Homo sapiens: one gene and its partner. The protein of the gene in region 1 purifies or fractionates together with the protein of each later gene. This does not show direct contact. Each region holds a gene or a part of one and is shown on either strand. Other genes may lie near its edges. The genes, in order: SYPL2 and TSPAN15.

The links.
Region 2: the proteins of SYPL2 (region 1) and TSPAN15 purify together in Homo sapiens (affinity purification with mass spectrometry; 2 studies listed by BioGRID and IntAct, with this or other methods). This does not show direct contact.

Annotation. Positions count from the first base shown.
Region 1 is NC_000001.11:109,476,546-109,483,454, forward strand, and holds the end of SYPL2 (synaptophysin-like protein 2), read left to right. Parts: intron 1-230; coding exon 231-432; intron 433-1,272; coding exon 1,273-1,464; intron 1,465-2,832; coding exon 2,833-3,003; 3' UTR 3,004-3,572; coding exon of another isoform or gene 3,573-3,588; 3' UTR 3,589-5,589; downstream 5,590-6,909.
Region 2 is NC_000010.11:69,447,378-69,454,464, reverse strand, and holds the start of TSPAN15 (tetraspanin-15), read right to left. Parts: upstream 3,001-7,087; 5' UTR 2,871-3,000; coding exon 2,775-2,870; intron 1-2,774. UniProt on the Homo sapiens protein: Part of TspanC8 subgroup, composed of 6 members that interact with the transmembrane metalloprotease ADAM10.

The DNA of each region.
Region 1 (6,909 bases):
AGATGAGTGGGGTGGGTTGGGGAGCAGCTGAGGGGAAGGTAGAGTTTTACTGGAAATTTCGGGGGAGTTCCCATCTTAACTGCAAGGTTCCTTCCAGAAACTTGCCTCCTTACATGACCCCTTTCTTGGCTCTGTAAGAGTCCCCTGCTGAGAACTAGCACAGGACTACTTCTGGGCCAGGGAGAGAGAGGATTGCCTGAGCTCAGGATGGCCTCCCCTGCCACCTGCAGGTTGCACCGGATCCAATATGAGATGCCCCTCTGCGATGAAGAGTCCAGCTCCAAGACCATGCACCTCATGGGGGACTTCTCTGCACCCGCCGAGTTCTTCGTGACCCTTGGCATCTTTTCCTTCTTCTATACCATGGCTGCCCTAGTTATCTACCTGCGCTTCCACAACCTCTACACAGAGAACAAACGCTTCCCGCTGGTGGTGAGTCAGCACAGGCCAGAAGGAATGGGGTGGAGAAACAGATGTTTGTGAGGGGGTTGAGGTCAGAACTGGAGCAGAGGACAAGCATGGCGGCTTCCACCCCCATGGTGGAACCTCTGCCTCCATCAACCTCCCGTTGCTTGCTCCTGTTCACAGGAGGCACAATAGCACCATACACAAGCAGGCTCTGGAGTTAGACTGCCTGGGTTCAGATCCCAGCATGGCCCCTTACTTGCTGTGTGATCTCGGACAAGTTAAATAACCTCTCTAAATCGCAGTTTCCTTAACTATAAAATGGGGATAAAATAATACCTGCTTCATAGTTTTGTGTGTGTATGTGAAAAAATGAGAATGCATGTATCTAGTACATAGTTAGTCTCAATAAGCATTAGCGATTATTAATATTATTCCTCTTTACTCTCTTCCTATCCCAGGCATGCAAGGCGGAAGGGGTGCCTTAAGGGACCCCATTTGCGTCCTGCAGTCTGCCACTTGTATCTGAGCAATGGTGATCAAAGAAAAAGCTGGGAGGGAAGAGTGGGGAATTTAGGCTCCACTTGGGATGAGTGGGTTTTGGGGTGAGGCTGACCAACGATGCCTTGGTACACTGTTGCCAGATCTTAGATCTGAGGGCATTAGCAGGGCTAGCCTGAGTGGCAGGACTCCTTTGGGGGCAGTGAACAGATGCCTCAGGACCACCTGGGTTCTAGGTGTTGGGTAGGATGGGAAGAGGCAACTGTCCTGGCACCCTGGGATTGCCAGTATCATGGCAAGTGGAAAAGAAGCAAGGGAATCATGGGGCCTTTCTGAGTGTATTTCCCATCCCTCTGCTCCTCCCAGGACTTCTGTGTGACTGTCTCCTTCACCTTCTTCTGGCTGGTAGCTGCAGCTGCCTGGGGCAAGGGCCTGACCGATGTCAAGGGGGCCACACGACCATCCAGCTTGACAGCAGCCATGTCAGTGTGCCATGGAGAGGAAGCAGTGTGCAGTGCCGGGGCCACGCCCTCTATGGGCCTGGCCAACATCTCCGTGGTGAGACCTGTGGCCACTGCAGGAAGCAGCACCAGCCCTGCTGCCCAGGCCTGTCCCAGCTAGCAGGTCCTGAAAGGAAAGAGAGGGTGTCCCAGAGCTGGTGTCCCCTGCACCTGGAGCTGGTGCCCTCACTGCGCTTCATGCTGGCTGCTGGCTCCTGGCTGACCCTGAGAGGACATTTTGGGATGAGGGGAACCCAAAAGCCACTTAGCCTTCTGTTCCTTCCTCCTTCTGCACTCTGCCTCCAATTCCCTTCTCATTTCCCCACCTCTAGGCACGCTCTCTGTGATGTCTCCCCTCCTCCTGCCTGTTCTACACAATGTGTGTGAACACATAAAGGGGAGCCTGGGGCTGTGGCTGAGCTTGAAGCTGCGAGCAGACCCAGCATGAGTGGGAAGGGGCTTACTGTCACTCAGCCCTCCAGCCTGGAAAGGGGCTTTGGAGCAGTAGTGGGTCTGCTGGATGCATATGGATTTGGCCATCCCAGTTGTTAGAATGTTGAAATATGTCCATATCCATTGGTAAAGAGCTGAGGTCTTGAGCTTCTCAAATGCTGCCCGTCATCCCAGCCACCTCAGCCCTGCTCTGAAAATGACTTGTTCCCACATCTGAAATGTTTAATGGCTGGCACACCAGGAACACACGTCTGGAACTTGCTGGAACCCTGCTTATGGTTCCCCCCCAAAAAAATTTTATTGTAGAAATGTTCACAGGTACAACAAAGTTGAAAGAATTTTACAGTGAATACCCATGCACTCACCACCTAGACTGTGCCATTAACTTTTTACTAGACTTGCTTTATCACATATTTATTCACTTCTTCATCCATCAATCCGTCTTGTTTTTAGTGCATTTCAAAGATAATTTGGGACATCAGTACACTTCCCTCTAAGTACTTCCTGCTGTGAGGTTTTTAAAATATGTTGAATAACTATTTGAACATAGCCCTGGCTAGGTGCCTGATCACAGGGAAGGAGCACCTTGGACAGCTCCTGCCACACCTACCTGGCGGAAGGTGCTCCGAACAGGGCCTCACGCGTGCTGTGGGAGGCGCCCCAGGGCTGACTTTTGCTTGGCTCCTTGCTATGCTTTGCACGATGCTCCTCTAAAGGGTCAGATTCTGCTAGTGACCAAGCTACAGCTTGGGTGCATGGTGTGGACAGAATTAGACACTTTCACCTGGGATTCCCCTAAACAGTTGATGGTCCTGAGCCCTGCCTCTATACCGAGCTCTCTGTCTTAGTCTTTCTAGTCCTCTGTGCTTCTTCCCTGCACAAGCCCCAACCCCAACTGCAATAGGAACTCCCCCTCCCTGTTCCCACAATGACCCCCTGACTATTCTCACAAATTCCCCTGATGTCTTTGCAGCTCTTTGGCTTTATCAACTTCTTCCTGTGGGCCGGGAACTGTTGGTTTGTGTTCAAGGAGACCCCGTGGCATGGACAGGGCCAGGGCCAGGACCAGGACCAGGACCAGGACCAGGGCCAGGGTCCCAGCCAGGAGAGTGCAGCTGAGCAGGGAGCAGTGGAGAAGCAGTAAGCAGCCCCCCACCTGGCTATTCCCGAACTGGACAGCACCTCTTCAACCACCTCCGGCTTCCAGGACCTTTCTCTTCCTCCTCCTCCAATTCCCCTCCCCCATCATTCTGGTCTTTGAGCTTTGAGACGATGGGCAGGCATCAGCTGTTGGAAACCTGGGCAGCCCTCTCAGTGGCTTCCTATCCTCCTTCTTGCTGGAGCCATGAATGGCAGGAGCTCAGTGCTTCTTGTGCAGTGCCTGGACCCAGGTATCTTACTTGGGGTCTTACTTGTACCCTTACAGTCTCTGAGAACCAGCCTCTGCTGCAGGTGAGGGTTGGGGGCAGGAAACCAGTGCTCTGAGACTGGTTCCTAGCAGCCACCTTTCTGTCAACCTGTCCGGCTTCAACAATATTAGGGGGAAGGGAAATCAGCTAGTAGCCTTCCCCTCTGGTCCCTTGTGTGGAGGCCCCAATAGTGGTTTGGCGACCCCTCCTCAGTGGCTGTCATCTAGTCCCTGCGTCTGATCTCCAGTCATCCCATGACTCAGTGTGCCTTCCACTGTCTTCTCTGGCCTCTGCCTGCCCACAGAATCCACCATGTGTGAACCAGAGAGGTCCACCAGCCTAGAAAACAGCCCTTCAGAGGGTCCTGATGAGGCCTTCCTGGACTCAGCTGGGAGCAAGATAAATTGCAACTGAGTTGCAGCTTCAAGAAAGTAAAGCCAGTAAGCTTGCTGGCAGAATCAATTTCTTCTATCCCCTCAATCCTCCCACCCACCAGGCTGGGGCACTTTCCACCAACACTCTAAACTCTACTTTAGAAACGCCCTATCTTCCTCCCTGTCCTCCTTCTTGGTCTCACACTTGGGACTCAAAAATGTGGAGTCAGGACCTGCCTCCTAATCCCCTTACTTCTCTGTCCATCTCCCTTCCCCAGCATCGTGCATCTGAGGCATTTGAGATCCTTTTTGAAGTCTGTCCAGGCCTTCCTTTTATTCCTGTGGGGCCAGACAGGGGCTTAGGAAGGGCCAAAGGACCATCATGAGGCTAAGTTGCCCCAGAGCCCCAGGATGGATGGGCCCATTTTTTCCTTATTCCCTGCTCAGTTTTTTCCCCTGCTCCTTCTCTAGTCCTTCTTTCATATTTCTCCTTCTCATCTTGAAAACAGGATGTTCCCTCTTCCCTTGCTGTCCCATTTCTCCCCTGTGTCCTTATTTCTCCCAGTCTCTATCCCCTCTCAAGTCCAGGGCAGGCCGATGCTATTGGTGCTTCTTCACTTTGGGACCCAGTTCCATATTTGTCTTTAGTGTATATCCTCTTCCTGATACCTCCTTCAGTCCCTCTCTGGGCCCCAAGGCTGAGAATCAGTGTTAACTGGGTAAGGATCATTTGCTTCCTACCCAGCTCAATCTGCCCTGGCCATAGGGCTTCCCAGGGAAGGAAGAAGAGGGAAGAATCCGACCACTTTCCAATCCAGTGCCAATTGGCCCACTAAGCATCCTAAAGGTGAATGTGCCCTGTGCCAATCTCTCCTCAGGACTGAGTCAACCCCCTTCAACCTCCTCACCTCTCTAAACACCATCCATAGTAACATGTGCATTACTGGGGTACCTAGGAGTCAGGACTTTTGACTTCAGGCCAGTCATTTCCTCCCGATGGGGAAAGGGTGAGATTTACATCCCCAAATGCTTGAGTCCCTCAGTGAAAGAATTAGTTTTTGTTTGTTTGTTTAAGATTTTGGGGAAGAGATTTGAGGAGGAAAGAAAGGAGATGGGGTGAGAGGGTTTTTAAGTCTGAAACTCTCTGTCATGAGCTGTCCCCATGGTTACTCAAGGACAAGGGGGGACAGTTTTGCCTACAGCTCCAGAGACACAGAGAACAAAGGGGTGACCTTCATTTTTCTTCAAGCCGGCCTCTGTGGGGGTCTGTGAGCAGCTTCTACTGGATCTTTGTTTGGATTCTGTGTCTGTATTTATAATTTATTTGAAATGTGCTGGGTAGTGTTCTCATTTGGGGGCTGAAGTTAGCAACTGGGCCTTCAGCTAGGGAAAGCAGTTGCGGGCAGGGGGTGGGGGGAGATTATATTCACTCCTGCCAAGGACTCCCAGCCCAGGACTCTCTTTAGAGCAAGGAAGCCTCGTTCTCTTTCTTCTCAAGAGGCTCTCTTGTTCTCCATCAGGAGAGCCTTGATTTAGGCTACGGCCTCACTCTCTATGGCCACCCTAAGAGGAAAGGCTACTTCACCTCATTACCTCCAGAGGGCTGGGCAGGGCCAAGTGCCTCATAGGACTCATGTTCTCTCCAACCAGGGCTGGCATCACTGCTTTGCAAAGTGGGGCCTGAGGTAGAAGAAGGTGTCTGGTTTCTCCAGCTGCTGTAGGAGGCTAATGGGCAGGGTACTTGCCCTTTGTCCCACTAGACTCTAACCCAGCACCAGGGTGCCCACCTAGGACCTTTCCTGGACATGAGTTTCCTTCACTATCATAGTCATGAGCCTCCTACTTCTGGGATTGCAGATCAGGGGTGGGGGGAGAATGTTGCATGTTGTTTTCTGGTGCTTGTTATTATATATTTGAATAAACAGTGCTGCAAGTACTTGCCATGAAGGATCTGAGACTGGAGTCCTTCCGGGGATTTATTTTTTCTTCCTCTCCCTTGCTTTAAGTTCTTGAACCAATATCAGGACTTTCACCAAGATATCATTCTACTGCTTTCCACTGTGCACCCCAAGCAACAAAGTCAGACTCTGTTGCTTGGGGTGCAGAGAGGAGAGCAGTTATTCCTAGCAGGCTCTGGTCTAGTGACATCTCCTCTTTTGGTGGCACCCAATTAGACCAAAGTAACTGGGACTCATTAGCAATTCTGGAGCAAACTCAAAAGGTGAGAGATAGTGGCTTCCACAAAGCTGTTTCCATTTGTTCTCCTACCATCTGTGACCCAAACAGGCTTCCTGTCAGGAGTTGAGGGCCATATGCTTCACTTTCTTAACTATCAGCTTCTTGTTGAACAAACTTGCACCTCTATCCCTCTTCAGAGAGTCACACACTACATTTACATCCCCTAGAAAAATACCTTGGGTACAATTGAACATTTAATTTTTACCTGATTCCTGGATGCCCTAGGGATCATCTGTGGGTCTCAGGTTGAGATTCCCTGCCCTCAGAGATTATTCTTGAAGTACTTACACCTTCCCTGGATGAAAAGGAGAAGAAAATCTGAGGTCTTGCTCCCCAACTTGTTTTCCCCTTAGCTAAAGGGTCAAGCGTCGGGGGTGAGGTGTGAGAGGTTGAGGAGGAAAAAGGATTAGTATTACTTTTTTAATGCGATGGCGGCGGGGGGGGGGCGGGAAATGGAGTAGGCAGACTTTTGTCTGATTGTGTGAGGGTGGGAAGAAATGTTATCAGCTGAGAAGATGAAAGAAATGGATGATTAAGGTACTTTCCAGACCTTAGCAAGGAAGATGACAGCTCTGATGAGAAATCTCCCTATGCCGAGGCTTCAGAAGCAGCCCTTCCAGCAGAGAAAGTATTCATTAGAAAAAGAAGGCAAAGTGATGGATGGAGTCAGGGTCCAGCCAGGGTTTGGGAAGAGGCTGTACAGGGTATCGATCGCAGTTCTCAAGAGAAGAGAGACAGATCAGCAGAGATGCTGCAAACACCAGCTGCCTCGGGGCCACCCCAGTTCTGGGGCTGGCTCTGGCTCGGAGACAGCCTTCTGTCATCCTGTCATCATGACAGGTGATCTTGGTCAGCTTGGCCAGGTCCTCTCAAATCCAGACAACGCCACGCCAACCCTCTGCTCTGCATCAGGGCAGCGTGGGTTTCCCACAGAGGAGGCACGACACGGGAGCCGAGGCCCTCCCCCACACCACCCCTGTGTCCTTCAGCACCTCCTACAGACTCCCTCCCCTTGCCCTTCTGATTCAC
Region 2 (7,087 bases), on another chromosome or scaffold:
CTCACTGCAACCTCCACCTCCTGGGTTCAAACAATTCTCATGCTTCAGCCTCCCGAGTAGCTGGGATTACAGGCACACACCACCACGCCTGGCTAATTTTTGTATTTTTAGTAGAGATGAGGTTTCACCATGTTAGCCAGGCTGGTCTCAAACTCCAGACCTCGGGTGATCCTCCCGCCTCAGTCTCCCAAAATGCTGGGATTACAAGCATGAGCCACCGGGCCCGGCCCCAGTAGTAATTTTTAAAGTAAGCAAAAAGTCTTACAGAAGGTACAAGGCTGTCATAAAACTTATGGCCCTCCAGACCTAAAAACTGAGATGCAAATTGCTAGCAGTTTGGACTTACAAAGCAAGTAACCCTTCCCTCAACCCCAGAGATGGCACCAGAGATGGCACCAGAGATAATAGGCTTTCCTGTAAATGGTTTCCAAATAACAGTAAACCTGGTCCAGGACAGATTACTTACTCACACTGGGCCCTGCCCTGCAGTCAAACTCTGGCACCTGGAGCTGCTCTGGCAGAGTTGGCAGGTGGCTGAGTTCTTGGCATGGGTGTAGAGACTTTTAAACAGAAATACTTCCAGGGATGGGAGTTAAGGATTTGGTAAGGCAACCTCAGTTGGCAGAGGAGGGATTCCAAGTTCTGAGAACCACCCTGCCCAAGAGAAGCAAGGCAAGGGCCATTGGGTGGGCTTCTCTGGGGGCTGCAAAGGACAGTGACAGAACAAAGCCTTAAAAATTAGAGTTCAGTTTTATTTAACTGCATGAGGTATGTTTGTACTGCACTGATTTTGCTCATATGTCACTCTTTCCCCATATCACTAATCCTAAAACAATTCAGTGAGGTACAGGGCAGAGATTCACTTATTCATTTTATAGATGAGAAAATGGAAACGTGAGGAGGTAGAGAGACTGGTTTGTGATTATATATCTGGGGAAGGGGTGAAGCCCAAAATACAACTCCATCTTCCTACCTCCCCACCCATCAACCTTAGGCTCTTTCAACTCTGATTTACAGAGAGAAGGGCTCACAGAACACACAAGGGGCAGGCACAGAAATCCTGGGGACTTAGGGGACCTATGAGACCATCTAGGGCAGCAGTTTTCAATACTGACTGCACACTAGAATTACCTTAATTCTAGTAAGTAATTTACTACAATTAAGCTTATGTAAATTTAAATAAATACCTATGCCAGGGCACAAGAATCTGATGCAACCGCTGATTTATAGCTCAAATCACCCCCACTCCCATCCCACATATGACCTTCTGTCTCCCTAGAGCTTCCACCAACAGGTCCTTGCTCCATCCTCCGCCCCCCAAACATACTGTTCATCTCTCCTCCACATTACCTAGAGTCAGAGAATTGGATTGGAAACTGGCCTCAGACTAGTCTTCTAGATGGAAAAGTCAATGAACAGTTCTGAGGCCCAAAACAGGAAAGTGACTTGCCTAAGATATCCATAAGTCAGTAACAGAGCTGAATCTGGATCTCCGATTACCAGGCAAGGCCCCACCCACAAAGGGGTCACAGGGAAAGCCAGTCCTGATGGCAAATCCAGCAGCTCCTGCTAGCAGAAGAGACCCAGCAAGGGGCTAAGGAGGACACCAGGGGAGAGTGTGTGTATTTGGTGGGAATGGGGTGTCAGTGACCACCCTGGGTCCCTGGGCAAGTCTGCTCTTGTGGCATACTGCAGGCAGAGAGCGATTCTGGAGTGACAGGGGCGGAGCTGGCCTATAGGAAGATATCCTCATCTCTAGAATAGGGCCCAGCCTAATATGAAACGCCCTTACAGAAACCCAATCTCTTGGGGCAGCTTACACCACAGGTGTCCAAATTCCCTGCCCACGATAGTAATAATGTCTCACACTTCTTGAGCTCTTCACTAGGCACCATACCCGGCCTATTTCACGTAATCTCCGCGAGCATCCTACAAGTTGAATATAATTACTGTGTCCATTTACAGATGAGGAAACCATGGCCGAGAGGAATGAAGTAACTTCCCCAAGATCACTCAGCAAGTGCTCATTTCAGAAACGCACAAACTGAAATTGGAACGATACAGAGATTAGCAATGTTTTAAATAAAAAATAAAATATAAAATAAAAGACCACTCGGAGCGACGGAATTCAAAGCTTGGTTCATGTCTAAACACTACCATCCTGCCCCCTAACAAGGCAGAGGAGGAGGTAAAGCCCAGCGACAGCGGAAACTGAGCACCTAGGTGTGCAGGAGACGTCGTCTGGTGGACTTCTCCTCGCCACGCAGGAGGCACGTGCATCCACCAAAGAGGAAACCAAGACGGAGCGGGGAAGCGTCTCGCTCAGGGGCATCAGCAAGTAACTAGCAGGGACCAGACCCGGAATCCAGGTCTCCCAACCCCGACTGCAAATCCTAACTACTTAAGCTCCACAGGCCGATGCAGAGGCAGTCAGTCCTACCGGGTAGGCGTGGTGGGCGCGGCCAGCGCGTTCACCTCAGCCTAGCCAGCCGGCCAGCGGACGCACAGCGGGCAAACCGCCCAGCCGGTGCACACAGGTGAGCCAGGTGGCACTCGGTCGGTCGACAACCGGCTCTCACACTCCCGAAAGGGCGGCTGAAAATTCAGGCTGAGCTCTGGCCGCCCGAATGTGAGGTAGAAAGACAAGGAGTCCGCGCGCGCTCACCCGCGCACTCCCTGGAGCGGCTAAGTGTGGACCCAACCCCGGGCCAGTGAGGGGGCGGCCGGATTGTGGGTCCCCACCCCCATCCCCGGGCCCTACTGGGGTCACTCACCCAGAACACGGTGGAATAGATGATAAGTGAAAACTTGAGCCAGAGGTAGGAGAAGCGCGCGCAGTAGCGCACCTGCTCCGAGTCCCCGCGCGGCATCCTGGGCGCTCCCCGCGCGGGTTACGGGGGCTCCGGGGCTCTCCGGCTCGGTCCCTCAGCCAGCGCTCGTGGCCCCACCTGCGGCTGCCGGGCTACCAGCCCCGCCACCGGCGTTCTCTCCGGGACTGACACTGGAGCGCGGCAATCACAGCCCCAGCCGGGAAGCCTGCCAGCCCTGGCGGCCAATGGGAGGCCGCGGCTGCCTAGCGTCTGGGAGGGGGCGGGCCAGGGGCGGGGCTGCTGCCCTGGGCCCTAGAGGGGACCAAGAAGGGATGGGAGGGGGAGACGGTCTTGCAAATGAGCTCGCGTGCAACTCTGGAAACGCCTGTGCTAATGCAGGGGGCGTGGGAGAGGTGAACCAGAGGTGCTCTAAGGAGAGAGCGAGCGTGCCTAATCGGGGTACATAGAAATGCAAGCTTTCCTCTTGTCAAGAGGGAAAACTTTGGGAAAAGGGCAAGAATTAATCGCCCAGGTGTTGAAAGTGCAAATGAGTGTGCTAAACGTGAATGGAATAAGGAAGTGGAGTTGCTCGGCTCAGGAAGGCTCAGGGAGGCAGACCAGGGTGGGGCTAATAGGCCCCCATGGAGCTGGAGTCTGAAGTTTGCTCGTGAAACAGATCTGCTGAAGGCCTTCACCAAACGACCTCGGAAGTCCCCTTCTTTTGCCAGGTGATAACCCAGCCTTGGGAAGGGTTCCTCCCGGGAAACCCCATCTTCAAACTAGGTTGAAGGCCTGGCGCGGTGACTCACGCCTGTAATCCCAGCACTTTGGGAGGCTGAGGAGGGCGAATGGCTTGAGCCCCAGGAGTTCAAGACCAGCCTGGGCAACATGGCAAAACGCCGACTCTATAATTAAAAAAAATAAAAAGCCAGGCACGGTGGCGCGCCTGTTGTCCCAGCTACTTGGGAGACAGGCGGGAGAATCGCTTGAGTCAGGGAAGTCAAGGCTGCAGTGAGCCGTGATTGTGCCAGTGCACTCCAGCCTGGGAGACAGAGTGAGACCCTCTCTCCAAAACAAAAACAAAAACAAGGCCGGGCACGGTGGCTCACGCCTGTAATACCAACACTTTGGGAGGCCAAGGCGTGCGGATCACTTGAGGTCAGGAGTTCGAGACTAGCCTGGACAACGTGGTGAAACCCTGTCTCTACTAAGAAATACAAAAAAAATTAGCCGGGCAGGGTGGTGCATGCCTGTAGTCCCAGCTACTGGGGAGGCTGAAGCAGGAGAATCGCTTGAACCCGGGAGGCGGAAGTTACAGTGAACCGAGATCCCGCCACTGCACTCCAGCCTGGGTGACAAAGGGAGACTCCATCTCAAAAAAACAAAAAACAAACAAACAGAAACTATAGGTGAGGGAGGCAGCTCCCTCTCTTGCACATAGCCAGCCACTAACCCAGCCTCCTCCCACCTGGCCTTTTCTCAGCCTGGGACCAGAGGTGGCTGTGAGCCTGTCTCTCATGCTAGATGGTCCCAGCTTTACTCACTGTTGTTTCCTGTCTCCCAAGCCTAGCTCAGCCTGGGACTTGGGAGCCAGACAATCCCTGCTGTGGCCTTCAGTAATTAAATCCATGGCAGAGGTCATAAGCTCTAGCAGTGCTGGGTGGGGTCCCTGGTGGTGATTTCAGGAACGACACTCTTATACAAGTCCCCAGTCCTGGGTTCCCAGGGCTCCTGCATACACAAACTCAACAGAGAAGGACAGACTCAGAGACTTAGTCCAGGCTGGCTTTAGCCCCCAGAGCTCTGCCCTAGGAGGAAGAAAGCAAGATTGGGGGGTGGGGAGGGAGGCAGTGCCATGCCTGGAAGGGTAAAAGGAAACCAATTTCCTGGTACAAAACAAACAAACCTTGGGAGGATGTTTGTGTGGGGTAGAGAAATAGAACCAGAGCCAGGCACAGTGGCTCATGCCTGTAATCCCTGCACTTTGGGAGGCCAAGGTGAGAGGTTTGCTTGAGTCCAGGAGTTTCAGACCAGTCTGGGCAACGTAGCAAGACCTCATCTCCACTGAAAATCAAAAAAATTAGCCAAGCATGGTGTCTCGTGCCTGTAGTCCCAGCTACTTGGGAGGGTGAGGTGGGGGTATCACTTCTCGAGCCCAAAAGATCAAGGCTGCAGTGAGCTATGATTGTGCTACGGCACTCCAGCCTGGACAACAAAGCAAGACCCTGTCTCAAAAAAAAAACAACAGGGAAAAGAAAAGGTGGAAAGAGAACCAGAGAGTAATGCAAGCTGCCCTCAAATGATTATCTGAGGGCCAAGAAGGCATCTTACCATAGTGTTAAAAGTTGTCCATTCTGGCCGGGCGCGGTGGCTCACACCTGTAATCCCAACACTTTGGGAGGCCAAGGCAGGGGGATCACTCGAGGTCAGGAGCTCAAGATCAGCCTGGCCAACATGGTGAAACCCTGGCTCTACTAAAAATACAAAAATTAGCCGGGCATGGTGATGGGTGCCTGTAATCCCAGCTACTCGGGAGGCTGAGGCAGGAGAATCACTTGAACCTGGATAGCAGAGGTTGCAATGAGTCAAGATCGTGCCACTGCACTCCAGCCTGGATGACAGAGCGAGACTCGGTCCCCAAAAAAAAAAAAAGTTGTCCTTTCTGTCCTTTGAGGAGGAAGACTAACTTTTTATTCCTCTTTGAGGGCTAGAGCCTCCACCCAGCCCTGCAGAGCTAAGTCCACACCCATTATTTGAGGTGCTAGTCTCTTCCCCACCCATAGAAGCTTGGAACCCTCTTCATACCCTGGAAGGCTAGTTTAGCCTCCTAGTTCCCTTTCATTCTCCATATTTAAACTACAGTCGAAACTGCCACACACCTCCATCAGGTTTCCTTCCCAGTTGCCCCTGGACTTCTATTCTTCCCTTCTGGCCTCTCCAGCCAGCTGCATTTTCTCTCATCTTTCAAATATTCCCTGGTGACACACAAGCTTCTTAGCAAGCCCTCTCAGCTCTCCCTAAGCCCTCGAGGTGAGCCATCCCTACAAAGAGCCTTGGAGCTCTTTGGGGCTGGCACAGCCTTTCCCTGGCTGCTGGGCTTCTTCACTGTGCCTCCCCACCTGCAATCCTGACCCTGACCCCAAGCACTAGGGCTCCTCCTGAACCACATTTGCAAACACTGAGACCTCAGAAGAAATGGCCATCTGTTTCCCACTTTTCCTCCTTTAGCCAGGAACTCTGGCCTAGGGGCCAGCAGGCCTGGTGCAAATCCTGGTTTTGCCATTACTTTTTTGTAGGACTGTTAGAATGTGTGGCATAGTGTGACACACAGGTGTGAATGCAACCCTAGCTGCAGACTAAAAGCACCTGGTAAGCTTTAAATGTATCCTGATATTCAAGCCCCACTGCAGTCAAGTCAAAATCCCCACCAACAGGAACGTGGTAATCAGTATTATTTTTAAACTCCCCAGGTAATTTCTCATTTTTATGTTTATTTTTATTTTTTTGAGAGGCAGTCTTGCTCTGTCACCCAGGCTGGAGTGCAGTGGCGTGATCTTGACTCACTGCAACCTCCGCTATACAGGTTCAAGTGATTCTCCTGCCTCAGCCTACCAAGTAGCTGACATTACAGGCCCCCGCCACCACACCCAGCTAATTTTTGTATTTTAGTAGAGACAAGTTTCACCATGTTGGTCAGGCTGGTCTTGAACTCCTGACCTCAAATCATCAGCCCACCTCCGCCTCCCTAAGTGCTAGGATTACAGACATGAGCCATTGTGTCTGGACTCCCCCAGGTAATTTCTAAAGTGCAACCAGAATTAAGCATCACTGGTACAGAGGTAGTCATGAGGGTAAGGTTGTCAGCCAACATCTTACCAGAAAGCCACATTCCAGAAGTCACTTACTCAGCTATCCACTGATATACTGGTAAATATTTAAAAACTAGCTGGTGTGGGGGATTCCAATTTCCATAAAGTAAATACTTCCACCATGTCTGATTTTAAGTTACCAACTTCACTTCAATGAACTTGGGAGTTCAGAGGCATGCAGAGTCTGGAACAATCACTCAGTATCCCATGCAAATATCCATATCTCAATCCACCCCCAAGGCTTTTCTAATTAGCATAATGAATGGATTGGTAAAATTCTGGGCTTATTAATTAGCATAACAGGTATTAGAAATGAGTCTCCTTTGGAGAAATTAACAGTATTAAAGATATTTAGATTGGCTAAAATAGTTTTGGCACCACCCATTCCTTGTTCAAACAGTGTCAAAG